7 linked regions of the Homo sapiens genome follow. The protein of the gene in region 2 interacts with the protein of the main gene of each other region in a biochemical or structural test. Each region holds a gene or a part of one and is shown on either strand. Other genes may lie near its edges. The genes, in order: ZAP70, SHC1, UBASH3B, GAB1, FLT4, CSF3R and PTPN12.

The links.
Region 1: of the proteins of SHC1 (region 2) and ZAP70, one has a biochemical effect on the other in vitro, tested with the Homo sapiens proteins (2 studies listed by BioGRID, with this or other methods).
Region 3: the proteins of SHC1 (region 2) and UBASH3B interact in a test that uses a peptide from one of them, tested with the Homo sapiens proteins (one study listed by BioGRID).
Region 4: the proteins of SHC1 (region 2) and GAB1 form a complex in vitro, tested with the Homo sapiens proteins (2 studies listed by BioGRID and IntAct, with this or other methods).
Region 5: the proteins of SHC1 (region 2) and FLT4 form a complex in vitro, tested with the Homo sapiens proteins (2 studies listed by BioGRID).
Region 6: the proteins of SHC1 (region 2) and CSF3R form a complex in vitro, tested with the Homo sapiens proteins (2 studies listed by BioGRID, with this or other methods).
Region 7: the proteins of SHC1 (region 2) and PTPN12 form a complex in vitro, tested with the Homo sapiens proteins (2 studies listed by BioGRID).

Annotation. Positions count from the first base shown.
Region 1 is NC_000002.12:97,723,576-97,727,075, forward strand, and holds part of ZAP70 (tyrosine-protein kinase ZAP-70), read left to right. Parts: intron 1-440; 5' UTR 441-461; coding exon 462-863; intron 864-1,516; coding exon 1,517-1,677; intron 1,678-3,500. UniProt on the Homo sapiens protein: Tyrosine kinase that plays an essential role in regulation of the adaptive immune response. Regulates motility, adhesion and cytokine expression of mature T-cells, as well as thymocyte development.
Region 2 is NC_000001.11:154,967,948-154,972,247, reverse strand, and holds the start of SHC1 (SHC-transforming protein 1), read left to right. Parts: upstream 1-1,500; 5' UTR 1,501-1,721; coding exon 1,722-2,216; intron 2,217-2,799; coding exon 2,800-2,870; intron 2,871-3,413; coding exon 3,414-3,477; intron 3,478-3,633; coding exon 3,634-3,753; intron 3,754-3,990; coding exon 3,991-4,044; intron 4,045-4,216; coding exon 4,217-4,268; intron 4,269-4,300. UniProt on the Homo sapiens protein: Signaling adapter that couples activated growth factor receptors to signaling pathways. Participates in a signaling cascade initiated by activated KIT and KITLG/SCF.
Region 3 is NC_000011.10:122,809,222-122,812,721, reverse strand, and holds part of UBASH3B (ubiquitin-associated and SH3 domain-containing protein B), read right to left. Parts: intron 2,974-3,500; coding exon 2,836-2,973; 3' UTR 1-2,835. UniProt on the Homo sapiens protein: Interferes with CBL-mediated down-regulation and degradation of receptor-type tyrosine kinases. Promotes accumulation of activated target receptors, such as T-cell receptors and EGFR, on the cell surface.
Region 4 is NC_000004.12:143,441,376-143,444,875, forward strand, and holds part of GAB1 (GRB2-associated-binding protein 1), read left to right. Parts: intron 1-3,500. UniProt on the Homo sapiens protein: Adapter protein that plays a role in intracellular signaling cascades triggered by activated receptor-type kinases. Plays a role in FGFR1 signaling. Probably involved in signaling by the epidermal growth factor receptor (EGFR) and the insulin receptor (INSR).
Region 5 is NC_000005.10:180,618,601-180,622,100, reverse strand, and holds part of FLT4 (vascular endothelial growth factor receptor 3 isoform 1 precursor), read left to right. Parts: intron 1-196; coding exon 197-559; intron 560-848; coding exon 849-995; intron 996-1,093; coding exon 1,094-1,225; intron 1,226-1,385; coding exon 1,386-1,492; intron 1,493-1,792; coding exon 1,793-1,928; intron 1,929-2,331; coding exon 2,332-2,436; intron 2,437-2,734; coding exon 2,735-2,848; intron 2,849-2,991; coding exon 2,992-3,080; intron 3,081-3,180; coding exon 3,181-3,331; intron 3,332-3,500. UniProt on the Homo sapiens protein: Tyrosine-protein kinase that acts as a cell-surface receptor for VEGFC and VEGFD, and plays an essential role in adult lymphangiogenesis and in the development of the vascular network and the cardiovascular system during embryonic development.
Region 6 is NC_000001.11:36,469,414-36,472,913, reverse strand, and holds part of CSF3R (granulocyte colony-stimulating factor receptor isoform a precursor), read left to right. Parts: intron 1-227; coding exon 228-397; intron 398-522; coding exon 523-676; intron 677-774; coding exon 775-848; intron 849-1,267; coding exon 1,268-1,481; intron 1,482-3,073; coding exon 3,074-3,262; intron 3,263-3,500. UniProt on the Homo sapiens protein: Receptor for granulocyte colony-stimulating factor (CSF3), essential for granulocytic maturation. Plays a crucial role in the proliferation, differentiation and survival of cells along the neutrophilic lineage.
Region 7 is NC_000007.14:77,540,295-77,543,794, forward strand, and holds part of PTPN12 (tyrosine-protein phosphatase non-receptor type 12), read left to right. Parts: intron 1-3,500. UniProt on the Homo sapiens protein: Dephosphorylates a range of proteins, and thereby regulates cellular signaling cascades. Dephosphorylates cellular tyrosine kinases, such as ERBB2 and PTK2B/PYK2, and thereby regulates signaling via ERBB2 and PTK2B/PYK2.

The sequences.
Region 1 (3,500 bases), on a different chromosome or scaffold from region 2:
ATTATTATTTTTGTTTCTTTCTCAGTTTATCTCACGGCTCTCCCTCCTTAGAGTGTTGCCTTCGGGAGGACGGGGTGGGACCGCGCCTGCCTCAAGCGTGCATATCCCCAGCACCGGGCCTGAAACACAATAATTCAGCACGTGGTTGGGACATGAAGAGATGGGTACAGGTGTGGGTGCTTGGGGACCAGTTGGCGTGCTTGGGCGTCCACATAATGTCTCTGGAAAGTCAGATGGGGGTTTGGGACTTCTCGATCTGTGCCCAGCAGGCTGCGGCTTCTCTCCAGGTTGACTCTGGCACAGAGCAGGCTCTGCCCCCTTGGCGAGCTCAGTCTGCGGCACTGATGCCCTCCACTTGGCGTCTCTCGCGCCGTCTTTGGGCCCAACGCACCAGGTTCAGGAAGGCCCTGACGTGCCTCCGACCCTCTGTGAACCCGCAGGTTTCGGGAGGCCCAGGGGCGATGCCAGACCCCGCGGCGCACCTGCCCTTCTTCTACGGCAGCATCTCGCGTGCCGAGGCCGAGGAGCACCTGAAGCTGGCGGGCATGGCGGACGGGCTCTTCCTGCTGCGCCAGTGCCTGCGCTCGCTGGGCGGCTATGTGCTGTCGCTCGTGCACGATGTGCGCTTCCACCACTTTCCCATCGAGCGCCAGCTCAACGGCACCTACGCCATTGCCGGCGGCAAAGCGCACTGTGGACCGGCAGAGCTCTGCGAGTTCTACTCGCGCGACCCCGACGGGCTGCCCTGCAACCTGCGCAAGCCGTGCAACCGGCCGTCGGGCCTCGAGCCGCAGCCGGGGGTCTTCGACTGCCTGCGAGACGCCATGGTGCGTGACTACGTGCGCCAGACGTGGAAGCTGGAGGTGAGAGCGCAGCCTGGGGCGCGGGGTCTGGAGGGGCGTGGCCGAAGAGGGGCAGTCGAGGGTTTTGGGGGGATAGGAGGGAGGAAAAGGTCGTCTTCCCCATTCAGTCCCCTTTGGAAGCTGGAGAGGTGGGGCACTGGTTGGGGAAGAACCTGAAAGGAGGCCTCAGAGGCAGGGGCTCCGTGGTGGCGGTCGCCTTCCGCAGGCTGAGCGATGCTATGGTGCTCTACTATGCCAGATGGGAAGGTAGAGGGACGCACTGGGCCGGGCGAAGGCGAGGCTTGGAATGGGGGCGGGGCTGAGAGGAGGGTGCGCGGGGCTAGGGTGAGCCCTTAGGGTAGGGTGGCTGTTGGGGAAGATGGGCAGTAGTCGTCCACAGCCTGAGTGACACCACCATGCACAACTACCTGAATTAGGTCTTCAAGCTGGAGATGCGCTTGGGGCCGCGCTGGAAGGTGGGGGTGGTTCCTCCCTAGCTGGATTGGGGAGGGGACCACGGAGATGGCGCGGAGGTAGTCCTCGAAAACCTGCCTAACACGCGCTAGGGACGCCTGGGTGGGGTGGGGAGTCCTCTGGGACAGGGCTCCCGGAAGGGGGTTCCTGTGGCGAGCACTTGGCCACACCTACAGACCTCCTCGCCTCTCCTTTTCTAGGGCGAGGCCCTGGAGCAGGCCATCATCAGCCAGGCCCCGCAGGTGGAGAAGCTCATTGCTACGACGGCCCACGAGCGGATGCCCTGGTACCACAGCAGCCTGACGCGTGAGGAGGCCGAGCGCAAACTTTACTCTGGGGCGCAGACCGACGGCAAGTTCCTGTATGTGGGGCCCGGGATTTGGGTGCGGTGAGGATTGGGGCTCGTTGGCAGGGATCCTGGGGACTGGGGCAGACGTGAGTGTGCAGTTGGGCCGTAAGGGTGTCCCTGTGCTCACATGTGCAAGTGGGTTGTGTGTTTCTGATGTGCAAAGGGACTTGCACATGGGGAAGTAGAGGTAGTGACTAGGAAAGCCTCCAGACTCGGTCCCTTGGCCTGGCTTGGAATCCCGCTTCCGCCACCTGCTGGCTGTGGCCCTTGGGCAAGTAGCGGACTGTGGTTGCCTGCCTCAGTTTCCCCTCCTTCAATCAACAAATATTTACTGAATACCTACTGTGTACCAGGCACTGAGCACACGGCAGTGAGCCAAAAAGACACAGTGCCTGTCCTCATGGGGCAGGTAGACAAGAAAAGGAATCAATAAAATAGAGACCCTGTCAGATGGTGGTAAGCGCCGTGTGTGCAGGTGGGGAGGCGGTTGCAATTTTAGATTAGGTGGTCAGAAGAGGCCTTCCTGAGAAGGTGACTTCTGAGGAAGGGAAAGAAGCTGAGGAGTGAGCTGTGCAGCTTTCAGGGGGAAGGGTGTTCCTGGAAAATGCAATGGCAAGTGCAAAGATCAGGAGGCAGGAGTCTATTTGGCGTGTTCCAGAAACATTGTGGAGGCCATGTGCCTGGAGCTGAGTAAGTGAGGGGGAGAATGGGAGGAGGTGAGGGCAGGGCGGGGACTTTAGCTTTTCCCCCAAGTGAGGTGGGATCCCCGGGAGAGTGTTGAAGCAGCCCCCTCTAACTGTCCTGTGGTTGACAGCAGTACCTCCCCTCAGGATCCTCTATGAGGATTACATGAATTAATACGTGTGAATCGAGAGTATGGTAACTGACATAGGAAAAATGCGGTAAATGTTAGCTTTTATATGTGGGTGAACGTGCGTGTCTGAGCCACAGCTGAGGCCATGTAGCTATTTGTGAGTTTGTTAATGTGAAAAAAATCTCTGAAAATCTCTTTTTAAAACTCTGCTGAGTGTTTGACAGCCCTGCTGGGGCTGTTGCTCTCTGGTTTGGACACGGGATCTTTTCTGTAACAGATGGTATCCAGGTGCAGCTGAGGTCACTCAGGCCTCAAGACACAGATAAATTGGTGCTGCCTCTTTCCCATGACCTCAGGAAGCCCAGTGTTTTCCCCCAAGAAATCTGTGGGGACAATTCTTGGGCCTTCCTTCTCGTGAGTGCTTCTTGGCCTGAGCCCCTGCCCAGCAGATCCCTTGGGTCATCTGCCTCCCCCAGGGCTGTTTCCTCTCCTGAGGTCAACCCACTTGGAGGAAATGACCACATCCCTTGATTTTCCTCACCCATGTGAAGTTTCTGTAGATTGCCTGCAGGCCTCTTGCAAGATGCAGCTCCCTCTCCAAGATTCTGTTGTGGGCTGATAAAATAACTCTTTTCACCCTACCATACAGATTCAGATTTAGGCTGTAAATTGGAGTGGAGTTTCCAAGGCTTCTGAGGGAGCTCTTAGATACATGTTGCACGTAATACTCAGTTGCCGGCACAACTTCTGAACAGGACAGGGCTGTTTTCTCTAAGAGGAAACCTTTGCATTTGTATCAGTTAGCTTTTGCTACATAACAAGCAGCCCTAAGATTTATTGGCTCAAAATGACAGTTTATTGCTCTTCATGATTCTGTGAGCTAACTAAGCAGTTCTGGTTTGGGTCATCTAGGCTGGGCCTGAATAGGCTGGGATGGCCACACTCACATGACTGGCCATTGGCTCAGTGTCACCTGGGTGATGGGGATGAGCTGGCCCAGTGCAGCCATCATCCAGCAAGC
Region 2 (4,300 bases):
TTGAGACGGAGTTTTGCTCTTGTCACCTAGGCTGGAGTGCAATGGCTCGATCTCGGCTCACTGCAACCTCCGCCTCCTGGGTTCGAGCGATTCTCCTGCCTCAGCCTCCTGAGCTGGGATTACAGGTGCCCGCCACCACGCCCAGCTAATTTTTGTATTTTTAGTAGAGACAGGGTTTCACCATGTTGACCAGGCTGGTCTCGAACTCCTGACTTCAGGTGATCCACCCGCCTCAGCCTCCCAAAGTGCTGGTATCACAGGTGTGAGCCACCGCGCCCGGTAGGAATACGTATCTTTGTTTTTTTTTTTTTGGTCACTTTCCAGCTTTGCCTGTGGCATTCTCCGGAAGAGCAGTGGCAGGAAGCCGTGGGTGGCAGGAATGGGTTTGGGACTGTTCCCTGTGTCCAGCTTCAACCCATCTTCTCCTGACACCCCTTTCTCCTGTACTTATTTTTCTCCTGTCCTTATTGACGCAGATGTGTCTTCTGATCTCTCTGTCCCTTCCTGGCCTGTAGTTTCTACTTCTCTTGGAGAACTGTTTCTTCCACCTCCTCCAGCCAGGCTCCTTCCCTGGTGTGAAGGATGCTGTGCTCTTTGGTGGGGCTTAGGGCCCTGTAAGAGGAGGGATGTGAATTGGGGTGGTTTGGAGTGGGAGTGGGGACCTGATTGCCTCATTCTCACCCTTGACAGTGTGCTGTGTTAACAAGCCCTGTGGAAAGGGGAGACAGGACAGTGCTTGGCTATGAGCCATCGGTCTTGGTGTGGTAGATGGCATACGTAGAGAACAAGCCGTGACCAGCATGTCCTCTTGTTCCCTTCTTGCCTGGTAGCTTCCTGATGTATCATCCAGGTTGAACTTTATTCCCCTTTTTTCACCAGCTTTGCTCTTCCTCTTGGCCCTGCTCTGCATCCATTGGGACCACTTACTTCCCATCCCCACTTCGCTAGCTCCAGTCCACAGCTGCTGTAGCAGAGGATGCTAATGGCCCAGGCTTACTGTATGGGGTAGCGGTTGGGGGTGGCCTGGGCTGGGGCCAGCCAGCTTTCGGGCATAGAGAGGGTGGGGGAATTCGAGTGTCCAACCAGGACAGGAAGGGAAATGCTGAGCTCTGAGATCTCCTCCCTTTTCCACCCCCAGCTGCCTCTGTTTCCTCCCTCATTCCCCTGTACTCCTGCCTGGCTTCCTGCCCCCTTTGGCCTGCGTGTGTCCGGTTTTGAGTGACCCAGACCTCCTATCTCCTTCCTTTCCGTCCCACTCTTCCATCCTTCCCTCCCACCCCCACTTTACTTCTCCCCAGATTACTAGTTGTTTGTATAGGGCAGGGGAGAGGGGCTTGGATAGCCCTACCCCCTGCTCCAGTTCGAGGTTGGGGCGGGGTGGGGGCTCAGCCCCTCTGAGCCTGTGAGTCAGCACTGTCCTCACGATTGGTCTCTCCCCTTAGCTCCCCGCCCCTGGGGAGGAGCCAGAAGCGCTGGGTCCAGCCTGTTCTCTTCTCAGCCAGAGAAGAGGCTCCACGTTGGGCGGGGATGGGGCCTGAAACTGTCTGGGTCTGAGCTGGGGAGCGGAAGCCACTTGTCCCTCTCCCTCCCCAGGACTTCTGTGACTCCTGGGCCACAGAGGTCCAACCAGGCTAAGGGCCTGGGGATACCCCCTGCCTGGCCCCCTTGCCCAAACTGGCAGGGGGGCCAGGCTGGGCAGCAGCCCCTCTTTCACCTCAACTATGGATCTCCTGCCCCCCAAGCCCAAGTACAATCCACTCCGGAATGAGTCTCTGTCATCGCTGGAGGAAGGGGCTTCTGGGTCCACCCCCCCGGAGGAGCTGCCTTCCCCATCAGCTTCATCCCTGGGGCCCATCCTGCCTCCTCTGCCTGGGGACGATAGTCCCACTACCCTGTGCTCCTTCTTCCCCCGGATGAGCAACCTGAGGCTGGCCAACCCGGCTGGGGGGCGCCCAGGGTCTAAGGGGGAGCCAGGAAGGGCAGCTGATGATGGGGAGGGGATCGTAGGGGCAGCCATGCCAGACTCAGGCCCCCTACCCCTCCTCCAGGACATGAACAAGCTGAGTGGAGGCGGCGGGCGCAGGACTCGGGTGGAAGGGGGCCAGCTTGGGGGCGAGGAGTGGACCCGCCACGGGAGCTTTGTCAATAAGCCCACGCGGGGCTGGCTGCATCCCAACGACAAAGTCATGGGACCCGGGGTTTCCTACTTGGTTCGGGTGAGTGAACATCCTCCTCTCCATTCCCCCGCAGACCCCCTCCAGTTCTAATGCTCACTCCAGCTTGGCCGGAATCTCTTTTTTCCTGCTGTTCCCCAACAACCCCGTTTCAGTGTCCTATTTCCTAAACCTTTCTCATCCCTTCCCCGATTCTGTAGCCCCTTCCCTTCCAGCTTTGCCTGGGCCCCCTTCCTTCTTTTCACTCCCCCACCCCCACCCTGGCATGCTTAGCACAATGCCCAGCATGGCAGAAGCTCTTAATAAGTGTTGGAATGAATGACTTCTTGATCTTTCCTCCATTCTCCTCCCGCTTTCTGGAGTTGTCACTCCATCCCAGCCAATGCCTGTCGGTCCCCTCCAAACTCTCTCCCCAGTGTGTGAGGTCCTTCTAGCCTGCCTTTTCTTTTTCTCCTCATTCCCTGTTGTCTTTCACCTTGGTTGTGGGATGTAGCCACGGGAAGTGGGCAGAACTTCTTCCTCTTTACTTCCCTTAGGGACCATATGGGTAAAGTCCTAGGGCCCTTTGTGAAGGGGCTGGGGTGGGGGAGCCGCTGACCTGCTGTCCTCTTCTCCCTCCCCTTAGTACATGGGTTGTGTGGAGGTCCTCCAGTCAATGCGTGCCCTGGACTTCAACACCCGGACTCAGGTCACCAGGTTAGTGGGGAGGGAGTGGATTGTGGGAGTCCTGGGATTAGTGAGGCCATGGGAAACAGAGGAGGGGAGTGGGTCACTTGGGTGCTGCTGCTGGGGGCTGATCTTTGCGTAGTAAAGGGGATTGAGAGAAAGCTGAGGTAGTGATTCCGCCTCTTACTGAAAGGAGGCCCCTTTGGCCCGGATCCTCCTTACCTATCCAGCCTTGGGAGTTGTGGGGAAGGTGGCAGAAGCAGCTGGCAGGTGGAGCTGGAGTAGAAAAGGGGGGTAGATGGAAGGTTGCTGCTGCCTTTGGGAAGGGAATGGGACATTTGGTAGCTGGAAGGGGGTGGGGCTATACCCATTGAGGCCCTAACCCAATCAGCCAGGAAGTGGCCTCTCAGTGTCATCAAATATTAAAGGCCCTTAATTCAATCCACCATGACAAAGAGCCTGGAGTGCCCTGGGAGTCTGGCCTGGCTTTCCCCTCCCCCAGCCCTGTGGCAGCCCCAGTTGAGTGGGAGGCAGGCAGGCAGGCGCTGGGTCTGAGTACCCCTCTTTCCCCAGGGAGGCCATCAGTCTGGTGTGTGAGGCTGTGCCGGGTGCTAAGGGGGCGACAAGGAGGAGAAAGGTACTTGGGGTCCTTGGGGATAGGGATGCTGCTGGGAAATGTGGAGGGGCAGTGGGGAGGCAAGTGTGGGGCATGTGGGGAGAGGGCCAGGAGGCAAAAGTGTGGTTTGCCTGTGCTGGGAACCCTCACCTTCTGAGACCCTGGGCCCTACCTTAGCCCTGTAGCCGCCCGCTCAGCTCTATCCTGGGGAGGAGTAACCTGAAATTTGCTGGAATGCCAATCACTCTCACCGTCTCCACCAGCAGCCTCAACCTCATGGCCGCAGACTGCAAACAGGTTGGTGAAGGTGGGCAGACGGACCAGAAACACTGATGGGGGTGCTAAGGGGAGATCTAGTTAGGAGGCCAAAATCTAGGAAGAGGGCTTGAGAGCAGGAGACCAGTAGGGAAGGAGGAAATGAGGATATGGGATAAGGAACCCAGAGAATGAGACTGGGGCACCAGGGTTCTGGGCCCTGAGGCTGCCTGACACATGGCATTCCCTTCCTTCTTCATCCCCTGCCCTAATTCTCAGATCATCGCCAACCACCACATGCAATCTATCTCATTTGCATCCGGCGGGGATCCGGTGAGTTGGGGAACAGAGCAAAGGCGGTGGGAGAAGAGCAAGGGGCTAGGGATTGGGAAGACATTGATTAGAGAAGTGGGGGTGCTAGGATTGTGGGGATATCTGAAAAGGACTGGGTTTTAGGGGTCAGGAGTAAAGTAGAACTGTAAAATTTTTTGACCTTCCTCCCCAGGACACAGCCGAGTATGTCGCCTATGTTGCCAAAGACCCTGTGAATCAGAGAGGTGAGGCATGGTGGGGAGCACTGGGTGGGTCT
Region 3 (3,500 bases), on a different chromosome or scaffold from region 2:
GGGCATTACCGGATTGATGTGGCACACTTGTAGAAGCAGGAAATGCTTTCAGGCTTTCAATCCCAGATTAAAACCTTTAGTTAATTTCATTTCACCTAGTTTATTTCAAATAACTTTCTACATTAAAACAAAATTCCTCTGTACAAGAAACCATTTGCTTCTTATCTGTCAATTCCTTCCTTGCCCTTCCTTCTCCTCTCCCCATACATCATTTGTTTTAATAAGCATCAGCTTCAGATCAAAAAGAACCAGCTGCAACTTCAGGTTATATATATTAGCCTATACTTTTTGGATGTATATGAAATTGAGTAATATAGTTGTCTCTTTCTTTTATTATACATAGATGCCACATGATTTACAAATAATTTCTCAGTTGCAGTGCAAGTTTAGTTTTTTAAATAGGTAAGTGTGCAAGGGGAACTTAATGTGAATTCAGATCTTTTGGGCCATTTTGACAAGCAATTTGAAATAATGAAATTGAAATGAAAGCAGAGAAATACAATCTTTCTTGTTTTCCACCTGAATTATTCGGAAAATTATTTCAGATCTCTATCTCCTTTTGCTTATATAGACCATTGCCTAAGGCAGTGTCCATATTGGACTAAGAACAATGGATTGTAGCCCAGTCAGACAGATTTATCAGTTCGTCATACAACTAAGATAACCTAGAAGATGGAGTGGATAACCTATTCCAGACTCTATTTCATACATTACAGATACTGCCCAGAACACACTGCTACAGTTTCAAGGTGAGGTGTTCAAGCATTATTCTGAGCACTCAACGCCCATGAAAATTTGTGGTGAATCTGTTAAAGATTATGGATCTGATTAAACAGTGGATTCACTTCATTACAAATACCAGAAGAATGAATGGTAGAGCCATTACATTACTTGTAATGTGACTTTTCTCTTAAGACCTTTATTGGGAATATTCCCTCCCAACATTTTATATTAACACATCATCACAGGGTTATTTCCATACCCAGAAGCTGGGTCAGTGTTTGCGCAACGCTAGAAGAAACCATGATTGATTTGTTTCTCAAAATGTAAAATACATGACATATTTTTCTAAGTGACCTAAAAAAAATACAACTATGGGCCAGGTGTGGTGGCTCACACCTGTAATCCTAGCACTTTGGGAGACAGGGGCAGGAGGATCGCTTGAGCCCAGGAGTTCAAGACCAGTCTAAGCATTATAGTGAGACCCTGTCTCTAAAAACAAAACAAAACAACTATAATCCTTTTGCTCATTAACATATATAGCCAGCATCCTTTCATGTCCTCTTCTTTCTAGGGGTTATCAAGTTGTAGTTTCAAACGCAAGCATAGATGTATTTTTATATACCTTACGTTTTATGCATCTGAGTTTTGAAACATAGTCAATGTTACTGCAACATGTAAAGATCCATTTTACACTAACTAATGTCTCTTTAAAGGGCTGGCATTTCACTTTGCATACATCTTCTACAGAGTGAACTATACCATAGGAGACCATCATCTGTGGCCATCAACAGTCAGATAGTCACACAATTAAACAGACATTGATAACTGATGATTTGGTTTGATTGTCATTTATTTCTTTTAAATAAACTCCCTCTAAATGCAGGAAGTAAGTATAATGAGAAACCACAGAATGTGGCTCTCCAAATTTCCTCAGTAGCCCTACCTATGTATTTTAAATTATCATAGAAAAACAAACAAAACGACAGCACAAGTAGCAGTGCAGCCATGACTGTCATCATTTATATTAGTTCCCTGACTTACTATACATCCCTGGTATAATTGATGCATTTGTGGATGTTCCATTATGGTTGACACGTACTGTAAGTGTACAACAACCTGACCCTTGGTATGGTTTGCAAACATGTCCATATTGCACAGAATGAACTTCTTGCTGCAAATAATATATCTAACATACATCCTTTCAAAATGTAACATCCTTAACTAGTTAACATAGTCTAGAGTCTAGGGGCAAAGACAAGCAAATATTGATGATTTAGAAATGCAGTAGCACGTTAGGCTACAACATGGTTAATTCCAAGTCACTTCATATTTTGCAAGTTCTTTGCTCCTATGATTGAATACTTCAAACATGTATCTTATCTTTCCTCCTGAGTATCCAAAAGTGCTTTGGAGAGCAAAAGTGCTTTGTCTCCCCATTTCACAGAAGCAAGGAGGGGGGATAGGGCTGTAGCAAGAAGGGCCAGCTGCTCTAGAGAAAATGTGGCAGTACCAGGGTAAATGTTAGCATCCTTAAGCGGGTATCTTCAGCCAGCAACACTGGTGTATGGGGGCTAGTGACGGTAGGATTTCATGTGTAACCTAAGAACAACTCTCTTCAGGGCATGTTTTCTAATAATCTTAAAAGGATTCCTCAGCTTGGCTCTACCTAACTGGAAAATGGAGATAAAAAAAAAAAAATTCCATCCCCAAGCTGTCCTTTCAATGCTCCCCCAGCTGGTCTGGGCACACTCCTTCCTCTTGCACCCCTTAGAGCGGGCCAGCAGCTCCCTCTGGGAGAAATGAGGCCCCTTAGCTGTGCATACCCAGAGGGAACGAAACATTCTCTTCTGTAGCAGGTGCCCCGATTTAGGAAGACAATTCTCCAAAGCCTTGTGAGCTAGGCAAGAGTCCAGAGAGAACACATTTTTTTCCTCTGAATCAAGTCTTTCTCTCATTTACACAGTCTCATCTTAAGAACTTTAAGTGTGAAAGGAAATATGCTAAATTATTCTGAGCTGTCCACTTAGAGTGTGGTGTGGATTTTCCCACTGTTTTTAAACACACAGAAAGACACACTCCAAAAGGCCTTTCCTTCTTGTTCACTGGTGTGGTTTATTCTTGAAGCAAGGTCTCTCTCCAGTTGAAGCCCCCAGTTGGTCCATGGGTAAGAGGAAGGATTGGTGGATCTGTCAGCTGCCATATTCCAGTTTCTCCTAATTCTTCACAGGAACAAAATCCCAGATATGGGATCTGAAGTAAGAGTCGTAAAGAAAGGGGATATTAGGAGATAGGTTTAATGCTTTAACTTTTACCTAAATACAAAGATATTCATGTGGCCCTAGAGAATTGCAGTCAGAAATGGATAGTGGCTTTGTAGAAATGCATTCCCTTCAAAAATCGATAAATAAAATAAAATGGGTAAAACTGGTAACTTAGAAGAGTATTTACATTGCAAGAGGATTCATCAGAAGGATCCATTAAATGGTGACCTCCCCTAAAGTAATTAAGTCATTGTTCATAGATTGCTGCTTAATTGGGTGGCAGAAAAAGAGGACCAAAATACATAAGGCTACAATGCCAGGAGTTAATTCCCAATTGCAAGTCCAGGTAAAAAGGCAGCTCAAGGCCGGGCACAGTGGCTCACGCCTGTAATCCCAGTACTTTGGGAGGCCGAGGCGGGCGGGTCACTTGAGGTCAAGAGTTCGAGACCAGCCTGGCCAACATGGCAAACCTCATCTATACTAAAAATACAAAAAATTAGCTGGGCGTGGTGGCAT
Region 4 (3,500 bases), on a different chromosome or scaffold from region 2:
TATATGTAGCTTTTTAAGACCACATAATGTTGGCATCAATTTCTCCTTAACCTGGGCTTAGATCATTAATATTAGTTCTAATTAAGTCCTAGTTGTGAGGAAAAGAGACTGAGGCTCAGACTATCTTAAGAAAAAAGATTTGGTTTTGTTTGTAAGTAAGGATAACCTCCTCGTTTCAACAGGAGGTTAACCTCCTTCAACAAGGAGGTTATCAGGAACTGAAGCAATTCTAGGGGACTGTTGCTGTGTCCTGCTCTCTCTGTGCATTTCTGTTTTATGGGAAATCTTTGCATCTGGTTTGTTCTCTTTCACATTCTTCCCTTCTTTTCTGTTTTCTTTTCTGATTCTTTTTTGTTTTCTTACTCTGTATCCTCTACTTAAATGGATTCTGCTTTCCAAGAGCTTTGGCCTCCAATGCTCCCCTTCTATGGCCTCAGTTCTGCCTCCTAGCTGCTTTTTATGTGCCCTTGCAGCTTCTGCATCAGCTTCTCATTGCCTTACTTATTATTTACTCACTTTAGATTGCTTAGAGATGATGTGATTGGTCTATGTGTGTCACACCCACGACGACCCAGTCTGCCCTGGCAGCAGGGCTGTGATTGCGGTGTGGATCTCAGAAAGGATGTGAGCATCAGAGGCTTTCTATCGGATAATGCTTCCTTTTGTTTCCTTTTTCTTTGTCTCTAAATCTATTTTAGACAACTACTAGTCATTTTCTTTGCATATAATATGCAAAAATATGTTTGGACATGTATAGCTTTATAATTGGTTCATACAGATCACTGAAGGATTGAGATATAAGTGTCATGAACTCTTTGAAATATTGAAATATCTTTTTTAATGTTAAACTGGTGCTTTCCTTATTTTCCAGTAACGAGTGCATGTTAGTGGCAGATCTCTACTTTTTAACTCCAAACCTAACAGTTTTATATTTTGAGGTCTCGCATAAATGTGGAGGGAGTAAGATTTGGGTGAGGTTACAAAGCTTTTAAGTCCTACCTCCCTTGCTCCTCTGCTGCTCTTTTCTCCCCTTGAGCTCTGTAGAGCACAGTTTGAAAACTCCAGTATATTTCAACAGTTGTGATTCCATGTGGTAAGCATAATATGAAATCAGGAAACACCACTGTTTATAAGTTAGAAAAGACCTAAGATCAATTAATGATTAGCTTTTAGTATCCTCTAGGTCTGATATCACTCATGTATCCCACATTATTATGATATATATTTTATGTATATATCAGAATATATACTATGTATCATGTATACTACATATTTTATAATTATACATCCCTATGTATTTAGTGAAAGTACTATTATTCTAGTACACTAGAGACTAATCACACTAGTTCTTTAACGTAAAAGAACTTAATAGAACAGAATAAAGTAGGTTCTTATTTCTGGAGATTGTGTTCATTCTTTTAAAATTTAACTGAACTGTTCAGAGACAATTGTGAGTTCGTTGGCCACATTATTTATTTGGCATATTTGCTTAGATACAAAATGAACTTAAAAAGAGCACCCAGATTGAAATACCCATATAGTTTTTGCCAGAATCAAGAATAGACTTAGCAAAACAGTAAAGAGGTTCCTGAAGTCATAGTATTCAAAAAAAATTTACTTTTCTTTAGTACTATTTTACTTTTTTTTTTTTTTTTTTTTGAGACAGAGTCTCGCTCTGTTGCCCAGGCTGGAGTGCAGTGGCGCGATCTCGGCTCACTGCAAGCTCCGCCTCTGGGGTTCACGCCATTCTCCTGCCTCAGCTTCCCGAGTAGCTGGGACTACAGGCACCTGCCACCACGCCCAGCTAATTTTTTGTATTTTTAGTAGAGACGGGGTTTCACCGTGTTAGCCAGGATGGTCTCGACCTCCTGACCTCGGGATCTACCTGCCTCGGCCTTCCAAAGTGCTGGGATTACAGGCGTGAGCCACTGTGCCCGGCCTGTACTATTCTACTTTTTAAATAGTTATGATACAGGAGAGGAGGCTTGAGAATGTATTTAACATTACAAGGCAGACTTTGTAAACTCACTTTACAAAGTTATGACTTCATAAACTCACTTTACAAAGTTATAACTTCAAGAAAAACACATTTTAAAATCCAAATTCAGATCTCAAAGCAAAGTTTATCCACAAACACTTAAACAAAAATAATGTCTCGTTTGGTCCTATAATTTTTCTCAGTATTCATAGCATCAGATGAATCTATTTTAATTTCAAATTTCATGACATCAGATAAATGACTTAATCTATTATTCAGTATCTCTTATATAAAACTCATTATAAGCAAATCTAATTCTATAAAATATGGCTTGATTAGTTTCAGAGCTCCATATAACTAGTTCATTGCCCTATATGTCTGGTTTTTGAGATTGTCTTTGGAAGGATCTATAAGAAACCAGTAACATTCTAGTCTTGTTTATAGCCCCAATTATAGATGTCAGCTGCTGTAGTTTGCATACAGATGAGCTTTTCAAATACTTATGAGTAATTGAAACTGCAGAAATACATAGATGTTCTGAACACTTAAACATAATTATCTTAGACCCTTTGCCTGTCACTCAATTCATGATAGTGATATTTTCATCATACTATTTCTGTCACTGTAGTGTTTGTTTTGAGCCAAGTTTTGTGTGTATTAAGAGAAACGTATTTTAAGCATACTGTATTAAATATTGGGAAAGCAGATGAGTCACTGGAAATACAGGACAAATTATATTTTGACCTCTTCAATTGAAAATTTTATATTTCTGATGGAAAGGGAGTTTTGTAAAGTTTGGGAAATTTATCTGTTATAGCTTCTCTTTATGTCATGACATAAATCTAGTATATTAAATCGCTAAACTTATCTAAGGCCCCCATCTCTGTCTAGTCTCTGTCTAGCATGATGCAGCAGCTGTGTGAGCCCCACATGCTGTCTTTATGTTGTTATGTTTGGCCTTGTCCATTCACGCCTTTCTGCAACAGTCTGAACATTAGTTACTATACTGACTTTTTTTTGTTAAGCCAGTGCAAGGTTTTGTATGGTGTTTTTATACACCACTTTGGTTAAAGTACCTTCAAGCTTAGATCCTTAATATTGTGTGGGGAGCATACAGAAGACTAATCCTGAGAGTTTCCCTGGGTGACTCTTTTGGCACAGTGATGGATTTGCTCTAAACATTTTTTCAAGAGATCTTTTAAAGTTTCTGAATGTGATTAAAAATTAACATGCACTTTTTAAAATTTTTATTCTTTTGTATTTCAATTTTTATTTTAGTTTTAGGGGGGTGCATGTGCAGGTTTGTTACCTGTGTATATTGTGCGATGCTGAGATTTAGGGTATGAATGATCCTGTCACTCAGGAACTGAACATAGCACCCAATCGTTAGTTTTTCAACCCTTTCCACCTGCCTCCTTCCCCTCTCTGGTAGTACCCAGTGTCTGTTGTTGCCATCTTTATGTCCATGTTTAGCTCTCACTTGTAAGTGAGAACATGTGATATTTGGTTTTCTGTTCCTGCG
Region 5 (3,500 bases), on a different chromosome or scaffold from region 2:
AGGACTCAAGTCCCACTGAGGGTGACAAGGAACTCCTGATGACCTGGGCTTTTGGTGGGGCGGGGGGCAAGCAGTCCAGCTGGGGCCCCTCCAGGAGAGAGGGAGGGAGGGAGGCAGGAGGAGACCCCGGGGCGGCAGGTGGATGGGGGAGCAAACTCCCAGGGCAGTGCCACAGGGCTTCTTCCTCCCTCCACAGCCATCCCCGACGGCTTCACCATCGAATCCAAGCCATCCGAGGAGCTACTAGAGGGCCAGCCGGTGCTCCTGAGCTGCCAAGCCGACAGCTACAAGTACGAGCATCTGCGCTGGTACCGCCTCAACCTGTCCACGCTGCACGATGCGCACGGGAACCCGCTTCTGCTCGACTGCAAGAACGTGCATCTGTTCGCCACCCCTCTGGCCGCCAGCCTGGAGGAGGTGGCACCTGGGGCGCGCCACGCCACGCTCAGCCTGAGTATCCCCCGCGTCGCGCCCGAGCACGAGGGCCACTATGTGTGCGAAGTGCAAGACCGGCGCAGCCATGACAAGCACTGCCACAAGAAGTACCTGTCGGTGCAGGGTGAGGCTGGCCGCGGGGAGGGCGGGGACGCGCTCTCTTCTAGCAGTAGCTGCCTCTGCCTTTGCCCCGGCGTGGCTCGCCCCTGGGAGGTCTATTCACAGCCCTGGCCTGCAGGAGCTACCCCTCCTGACTATCCGCCGCCCCCTGCGGAGGCGCGCCGCGCTCCTGCCCGGCGCACAACCCCTAAGTCCAGCTTCCAGGGATCCTTTTCTACCTCTGCTCCCAGCCCAAAGAGGGTCCTCCTGCTAAGTGCAGCTCCACTTAGCTCCCTCTCGACCCCTGCCCCCAGCCCTGGAAGCCCCTCGGCTCACGCAGAACTTGACCGACCTCCTGGTGAACGTGAGCGACTCGCTGGAGATGCAGTGCTTGGTGGCCGGAGCGCACGCGCCCAGCATCGTGTGGTACAAAGACGAGAGGCTGCTGGAGGAAAAGTCTGGTAGGGAGGGTGGCCCTGGCGAAGGGCAGGTCCGGAGGCCCGCGAGGCCGACGATCCCAAACCCAGGTGGACCCGCACCTCCACCCCACCCCCTGCAGGAGTCGACTTGGCGGACTCCAACCAGAAGCTGAGCATCCAGCGCGTGCGCGAGGAGGATGCGGGACGCTATCTGTGCAGCGTGTGCAACGCCAAGGGCTGCGTCAACTCCTCCGCCAGCGTGGCCGTGGAAGGTCTGGCCTCAGGCTGCACCCCTCAACTCCCTTCCCGTCCCCAGTTAACGCTTTCTTGTGGCCACCTTGGGCAAGTCGTGGCCACCAGAAGGGGTGCTGCCTGCAGGTGCACGCTCTTACACACACACACACACACGCCGGCCCCTTTCTGCCCACGCAGGCTCCGAGGATAAGGGCAGCATGGAGATCGTGATCCTTGTCGGTACCGGCGTCATCGCTGTCTTCTTCTGGGTCCTCCTCCTCCTCATCTTCTGTAACATGAGGAGGGTGAGTGTCCCTCCCCGCTCCTGATGGAGTCTCTCTCAGGCCTTCCCCACCCTGGCCGCCCCTAAGATAAAGAATAAGGTGCCCGCCCTAGTTCACCTGGCAGCCTTGTTTCCTGGGAAGCCTCCCTGCCCTTCACGCTGGGCTCCAACCCCGCAGAGGTTGTCTGTCTTTTTTTCTGTCCCCTCCTTGACTGAGAACCCCGCAGGAAGTGCCATCTGTCCTGGGCAAAGTTCTGCCCAAGCCACAGTGGTATGGCCAAATCAGTGAGCTGCCCCACTCCTCCCTGTCCCCTCCCCGCAGCCGGCCCACGCAGACATCAAGACGGGCTACCTGTCCATCATCATGGACCCCGGGGAGGTGCCTCTGGAGGAGCAATGCGAATACCTGTCCTACGATGCCAGCCAGTGGGAATTCCCCCGAGAGCGGCTGCACCTGGGTGAGGCCAGCACCAGCCTGCCCAACCCACACCTCCTGCCCGACCCACCTGCTGCAGGCCGGAGTGCCTGAATCCCTCCATTTTCAAAACTTGCACCAGGAAGTTCCGCCTGGCCTGACCTGTCCCTGTGGGCGTGGGTACCTAGAACCTCAGCCAGGGTCCCCAGTTCCCAGGCTCCCTGAGGTCACCTGCTGCCACCCTGAGCAGGGTGTATCTGTCACACCTACCCGGGAGGATGCGCGGCCTCCTGTCCACCTCTCCTTGTCTTCCCGCTGTGGCTCCCCACGCTCCTCCTGCTGCCAGGCCTGTCCTCCTGGACCTCTGCACGGGGCTCCCCCGCCGCCCACCTGTCTCCACGCTCACCCCGTACAGCTCACCTGCAACTGGCCCCCTGCCCCGACAGGGAGAGTGCTCGGCTACGGCGCCTTCGGGAAGGTGGTGGAAGCCTCCGCTTTCGGCATCCACAAGGGCAGCAGCTGTGACACCGTGGCCGTGAAAATGCTGAAAGGTGTGGGGTCAGCGGGCGGAAGGGGCAGCCTAGCTGGTGAGGAGCAGCAGCTCGGGGTGGGCCGGTGGGACGGCAACTCGGGAAGGGAGACTGAGGCTGGAAGCCAGTCTCATCCGAGATTCTACAGGGAGGCTGCGGGCTTCAGAGCCGAGGGACCACCCGAACCCCCTCTGCCTCAGTGGGGCCGGCAGGATGTCCTGGGGGCCCTTAGTAACCCTCCCCCTCCCAAAAGCGCCGGGTGGCGGGGAACGGGGACCTGCCAGGGTCGGGGCCGGTGTGAGGCCCGTGTCCCCTCCAGAGGGCGCCACGGCCAGCGAGCACCGCGCGCTGATGTCGGAGCTCAAGATCCTCATTCACATCGGCAACCACCTCAACGTGGTCAACCTCCTCGGGGCGTGCACCAAGCCGCAGGGTACGGAGCGGGCGGCCCGCTGGGACGGCGAGACCCCGGGCGCGGGGCGCCGCGGGCGGGAGGGGGCGCGGGTGCAAACGCGGAGCGCGCCCGCAGCGCGCCCCGGGTTCCGAACGCACGGCCGCCGCCCGGTCCCGCCGCAGGCCCCCTCATGGTGATCGTGGAGTTCTGCAAGTACGGCAACCTCTCCAACTTCCTGCGCGCCAAGCGGGACGCCTTCAGCCCCTGCGCGGTGAGCGGGCGGCCTGCGGGGCGCCGCGGGCGGCGGGGGAATGGAGGCGCCTCTGCGGCGGACGACTGGGCGCCCTCGAGCCAGCTTCGTGCATCCGCAGGAGAAGTCTCCCGAGCAGCGCGGACGCTTCCGCGCCATGGTGGAGCTCGCCAGGCTGGATCGGAGGCGGCCGGGGAGCAGCGACAGGGTCCTCTTCGCGCGGTTCTCGAAGACCGAGGGCGGAGCGAGGCGGGCTTCTCCAGACCAAGAAGGTGAGAGCCTGGCCTCTTCCCTTTTCCTAGTGCCTGACGGGCCCGGTTATATCCCGTGATCAGGCACCCCAGCCTGGGGTCCTCAGCGGGGGCTTTCATGGGAGAGTGTGGAATGGGCTCTGCCTTAGGAAGGGAAGACACCTCGGGGACAATTTTCACACAGATGTTT
Region 6 (3,500 bases), about 120 Mb from region 2:
GGAGGGAAAACATTTCAAGCAGAAGTAACAACCAGTGCAAAGGCCCTGGGGCAAGAGCGGAAACAGAGACCTAGAGAGAAACAAAGACACATAGAGATCGAACCACAGAAACGTGTCATTGGCAACGTGGACAGATGGTGAACCACAGACAGGGAGACAAGAGGGAGCTAAGGCAGAGCCCTCTAGGGTGGGATAGGGAGACCTTCTGACAGCCCCACTCCTTGCAGTGAAACTGGAGCCCCCCATGCTGCGGACCATGGACCCCAGCCCTGAAGCGGCCCCTCCCCAGGCAGGCTGCCTACAGCTGTGCTGGGAGCCATGGCAGCCAGGCCTGCACATAAATCAGAAGTGTGAGCTGCGCCACAAGCCGCAGCGTGGAGAAGCCAGCTGGGCACTGGTGAGGCAGAGGGCAACCTGGAGAGCCTGAGGTGGTGGGGGCAGGGGGCAGGGTAAGTCGGGCTCGAGCTGGCCCTAGAATGGCCCAGCGATCCAAGGCTCAGAGTCCTGTCCACCCCTCACCAGGTGGGCCCCCTCCCCTTGGAGGCCCTTCAGTATGAGCTCTGCGGGCTCCTCCCAGCCACGGCCTACACCCTGCAGATACGCTGCATCCGCTGGCCCCTGCCTGGCCACTGGAGCGACTGGAGCCCCAGCCTGGAGCTGAGAACTACCGAACGGGGTAAGGAGGTGATGAGAGGCTGGGAGCAGCCAACAGTATCCAGTCCAGGCCCCAGGCCCCTCCCCAACTGGCACCCCCTCTTCTTGTTCCATCCACAGCCCCCACTGTCAGACTGGACACATGGTGGCGGCAGAGGCAGCTGGACCCCAGGACAGTGCAGCTGTTCTGGAAGGTGACTCCCTCTGAAGGCCATCCCTCCACCTCGACACCTCCCGCAGTCCAAACAGATCCCTACAAACCGGGGCTTAGGACTCCAACAGGTCTGGGAGGCGTGGACGCATTTATATGTGATTTGCATGCACTTTGCATGTGCCTAGGGAGCTGAGTTAGCTTTTGGACAGACTGTAACGCACGTCACAGTGTGGTTCAGTGAATAGTTAAGAGCCTGCTGTGTCCACCAACTTGTTTCTTCCTGCCCTCCTTCCTAGAACCTAGCACAAGGGAACAGAGGGAAAAGGGGAGGGGGGTGAGAAGCCTGGACCCCAGCCTGGGGAGGCTCCGTTTGTATGATCCATCCACCCCACCTAGAGGCTCTCCTTGACTCAAGATGAGCTGCACATCCCCTTCTCTTTTTCCTCCTGTGCCCCACAGCCAGTGCCCCTGGAGGAAGACAGCGGACGGATCCAAGGTTATGTGGTTTCTTGGAGACCCTCAGGCCAGGCTGGGGCCATCCTGCCCCTCTGCAACACCACAGAGCTCAGCTGCACCTTCCACCTGCCTTCAGAAGCCCAGGAGGTGGCCCTTGTGGCCTATAACTCAGCCGGGACCTCTCGTCCCACTCCGGTGGTCTTCTCAGAAAGCAGAGGTAAAGGGGGCTGGCAGCCAGAAGAGCACAGAGGTCAAGCGCATCAATTCAAAGGCTAGACTGCCTGGGTTAAATCTAGTCCTATTGGCCGGGCGCAGTGGCTCACGCCTGTAATCCCAGCACTTTGGGAGGCCGAGGTGGGCAGATCATCCGAGGTCAGGAGTTCAAGACCAGCCTGGCCTACATGGTGAAACCCCTGTCTCTACTAAAAATACAAAAATTAGCCAGGCATAGTGGCGGGCACCTGTAATCCCAGCTACTCCGGAGGCTGAGGCAGGAGAATTGCTTGAACCTGGGAGGCAGAGGTTGCAGCAAGCTGAGATCACGCCATTACACTCTAGCCTGGGCAACAGAGGGAGACTCCATCTCAAAAAAACAAAAAAAAACAAAAAACGAGTCCTATCACTTGCTAACAGTGTGACCTGAGTAAGTTACCTCCCATCCCCGGCCTCTGTTTACACATCCAGCAGATGGGGATGATAACAGCACCTACTGAGCGGTGCCATGGGGTGTACATGAGTTAAGACAAGTGCCTGGCACAAAGTAACTGCTCTGCATGTGTCTGCTGTTGTTATTATCATTAGCCAGACCAGGTTAAGCTCTCTCTCTCACACACACACACACTCACAGCCCATTCTGCCAAGAAAGCCAAGAGAGAAAGCCCCAGGCTTTTCCACTTGGAACCTGGTCTATGAGTTCATTGCTCATTCTCAGGAAATCAGCTGCCACCACCCACTGCTTTCCCTAAACATTGGTCCTCGCAAGGTGGGACTAATAATCACAATAACAATAATCATAGCTAATATTCCCACTTACTAGCTGTGTGATCTTAGACAAGTTTCTTAACCTCTCTGTGTCTCTCAGTTTTCTCATTAGTAAAATGGGGAAAAGAGTAGTACTTCCTGGGTATGACTATTAGAGGACTCAGTGAATTAAAATGTATCAAGGAGTCCAGTATGGTGGCTCACGCCTGTAATCCCAGCACTTTGGGAGGCTGAGGCGGGCGGATCATCTGAGGTCAGGAGGTCAAGACCAGCCTGGCCAACATAGTGAAACCCCATCTCTACTACAAATACAAAAATTAGCCGGGCATGGTGGCGGTTGCCTGTAATCCCAGCTAGTCGGGAGGCTGCGGCAGGAGAATCACTTGAGCCTGGGAGGTGGAGGTTGCAATGAGCCGAGATGGCGCCACTGCACTCCAGCCTGGGCGACAGAGCAAGTCTCTGCATAAAAAATAAAATAAAGTAAGGTAAAGTAAAGTAAAATAAAATAAAATATATCAAGGACTACGCCTGACACATACCAAGAACAATAGAGTGTTAGCTGTTATCACTAACAAGAACTACTCCATGCCAGGCGCTATGCCAGGCTTGTTTCGTGCATCAAGTCATTTAATCTGCACTAAGACCCTATGAGTTAGGAACTTTTATCATCATTTCTACTTTACAGATGAGGAAACTGAGGCTAAGATGTTGACCTACCAAAGGTCACCCAGCCTGTAAATAGCAAAGCCAGGATTTGAACCCAGGCTTCTGGCTCAAGGGCCTGCATTCTTTTCACCTTCATTCCACCATTTCCCACCCTGTCTCCAGGCCCAGCTCTGACCAGACTCCATGCCATGGCCCGAGACCCTCACAGCCTCTGGGTAGGCTGGGAGCCCCCCAATCCATGGCCTCAGGGCTATGTGATTGAGTGGGGCCTGGGCCCCCCCAGCGCGAGCAATAGCAACAAGACCTGGAGGATGGAACAGAATGGGAGAGCCACGGGGTTTCTGCTGAAGGGTGAGGCTGGCCTGGAAAGTTGGGCAGGGCCAGGGACAAAGGGAGGCAGTGCTTATCTGACAATAGGCATGGGACAACCTGAACTGCCCAAGAGACATGGATTCTCCAGCCTTTCTTGATCCTTCGTTGTTCTCATTTCATATCCTCATAATCAGGAAGTTCTTCCTACAGTCTAACCTGATCCTTTTTCTATAGCCCTGACTCTGCCACCCTTCTAGCTCTCTCTTCCACTTTTCTT
Region 7 (3,500 bases), on a different chromosome or scaffold from region 2:
TGGCTCAATCTCGGCTCACTGCATCCTCCACCTCCCAGGTTCAAGCGATTCTCCTGCCTCAGCCTCCTGAGTAGCTGAGATTACAGGCGCATGCCACCACGCCTGGCTAATTTTTGTATTTTTAGTAGAGATGGGATTTCACCATATTGGCCAGACTGGTCTTGAACTTTCATCTGACTGACTTTGTGATCTGCCCGCCTCAGCCTCCCAAAGTGCTAGGATTACAGGCATGAGCCACCGAGAGTTCATTTCTCCAAGAGTAAATGAGTTTCCTTTTTCTTCCATGATACCTAGGTATAGCTAGGTGATTCTACATTAGAGATTTGATGACTAAGGCTATTCTTTTATAGGGCTTTTTTTTTTTTTAATTTCCTGACTTGATAAGCAATAGCTGTAATTAAGACAGCCGGTAGTTGGTGCTGCTTTTTCCCCTGACTGGAAGGCTGGAGAGGAACTATGTTCTCCTGGCATGGAAAGAGAAAAAAAAGATTAGCTTATAGATTCTATTATTTTTAAATTCTGATGTCGATTAAAAATGCATTTTAAATTCTTAACATTTTATGACTGAGCCTTAGAGATAATGTAGCTGATATAACTGTTCCATCATAAAATAATGTTTATTCCAAATTTGGAAATTAATAGAATAATAATAATGCCTTACACTTAGACCACAGTTCAAATGAACACTCCACTTGCCTGACTGGTGATGATGCTCTTTTCGCTCTATCCAGCTGTCCTACAGTCCTGTCATTTAAAGGCTACCTCTGTTAATATTTTTTGGTTTTGTTTTGTTTTGTTGTTTTGTTCTGTTTTTGAGACAGGGTCTCACTCTGTCACCCAGGCTGGAGTGCATGGTTGCGATCCTGGCTCACGGCAGCGTCGGTCTCCCTGGGCTCAGGTGATCCTCCCACTTCAGCCTCCAGAGTAGCTGGGGCTATGGGCCCACCCCACCAAGCCCTGCTGATTTTTGTATTTTTTGTAGAGACAGGGTTTCCCCATGTTGCCCAGGCTGGTCTCAAACTCCTGGGCTCAAGCAATCCACCTGCCTCAGCCTCAAAGTGCTGGGGTTACAGGTGTGAGCCACCGTAGCCGGCCTACTACTTGGTAACTATCTTATATCTTAATTTTGTTTCTTTATGTTTGAGTATTTAGGTCATTCTACTTTCTGCTGTTACATATAGTAATTCTGTGATTAACATTTTTGCTGAAACTGACATTTTTCACTGTTGCATAAGATAGCTTCCCAGGAGTACTAGGTAGACGTATATAAACATTTAATACATGTTCATAAACTTGAAAAAGTTTTGTCAGTTTATACAACTGTCATAATGTATGAGTGTTCATATTATAATTTTCTTGATCTTTATTTGATGGTTGAAAACTGATATCTTGTTTTAACTTGAATTTCTTGATTACTATTGAGGATAGAAATTTTCCACCTGTCATTACTATTCTATGAGTGTCTATTCCTGGCCTTGGTTGTGCCCCATACTGTTAAAGAGGAGACAGCTAAGGTACCCAGACTGTGCAGAACTATGTTGCCTAGATGGTTATTTGCATGTTGAAAACATGCTAATTTTGCTAATAAATTAGCAAATAGCTAATTTGTGGCTGATCCAGAATTTGATCTCAATTATCTCTACTTTTAATATTTACAAAATGAGAGATAAATGTATAAAGTAGGGTGGTGCACATTCATGTTTGACAGACCTAGGTTTTAACTCCACACAGACTCCCTCTGATGGCTGGGGGTTGGGGAGGTGGTCCTGGACCATACTTTGAGAACCAGTGAGCTAATACATGGTAAATGATAAAGGTAATGCTGGGAAAGTTAGGTAGAGGTCTTTTTGTGAAGGATCTTACATCTATGCTATACTTAGATTTTATTCTACAGACCGATAATAGCAATTCTGGACAGTCTGCATTGTAACTCCTAGAGACATGGAGAAAGTAGGGAGGTGTTAAGAAAATAGACATGCTGGTCCACTCCAGCGTCATTCCCCCATCTCACCTTCTCCAGCCTGCTCCTTGAGTTGTACTCTGAACCTTCACTTACTTAGATAGGTTCTGGTAGAAAAGGTGAGAATCATTAGTCTGGGTTTCTGGAGCACTACTGAGTCTTTTAAGAAAGGTAAACAGTCATTTGTGTTTTACAAAGTTGAATCTGATAGCAGTATGAAGGGTGGCATTTTGGAAGCTGTTGAAATATAAGAAGTGAGATGTGAGGGCCTGAAGTGAACTGAGATGGGGAAATAGAGTGTATACAACACATCTGATAAGAATTAAGAAAGGAGTCTCAATGATTCATTAGATGTAGGTAGTAAAGAAGAAAAGAGTATAGTGTTATGACTCGCAAAATATCTAGCTTGGTATCTGTCACCCAAGCTAGAGAATACCATTTGGTAGAGTAAGGAGTGAGGGAGGAGAAACAAGTAGAGGAGACCAAACAACATTGTAGGAGGAAGTTTCAGGGGGAGAAGAGGATAAATTTAATTTTCAACATGTTAAAACTGCGGTGCCTCTGAGACATCCAGTAGAAATGTAGAGCTCAAGATTTCTGACAGGACGGAGTTAAAGATGTAGGCATCATAATATAAGCATGTAGGAGATAGTCGACAGCATGGGAGTGAATGAGCTTATTCCAACAAACTTATAGAGTGACCAGCTTTAGGTTGAAGAACATCAGTCTTAAAATAACAGCCAAAAGAAGGATATACTAGTGATTGTTCCTGAGAAGGTGTGGTCAAGGAGGAGGGAGGAGAACCAGAGATGTCAGAAAAGCCAGGGAGAGTTTCAAGAAAGGAGTTATTACCAGAGTCAAATAATGCTGGGAGGACCGGTAAGGTGAGGTTGAGAAAGTACCTATTCCATTTGGCACATAGGAGTGCTTTGGTGACTAGAAAAAACAGTTTGGGTTGGGGTATGGGAAGAAGCTAGATTATAGGGTGAAGGGTGGGTTTAGTGTCTTTCCATTTTTTTTAACATTTTGAAAGTAGATGGTAGGAGCTAGAGGAAGATTGGTTGAAGGAGAGTGTGCCCCTTCCACTGCCTTTTTTTTTTTTTTTTAAAGAGAGAACTAGAGAATATTTTTCTTATTATTTCTTGTCTATGTGTATATCCTCTTTAGCCTGGGAAGATCTTATGTTGCAGTCTTGATAAATATAAAAATTTTAATCATTTGTTTATTCAGTGTTGTAGCTTATAGGTTTAAAAAAACTAATAATAGCTTTATTGAGATATAAGTACCTACCATAAGATTTATTCATTTAAAGTCTATGATTCACTAGTTTTTTATTACATTGATGAAGTTATGCAACAATAACCATAATCAATTTTAGGACATTTTCTTCACTTTCTGTACCCATTAGCAGTCACTCCCCGCCTTCCCATAAGCCCCAGGCAACCACAAATCTACCTTCTGTTTCCATAGATTTAAGTATTCTGGACATTTTATATAAATGGAATCATACAATATGTGGTGTTTTGTGACTGACTCCACC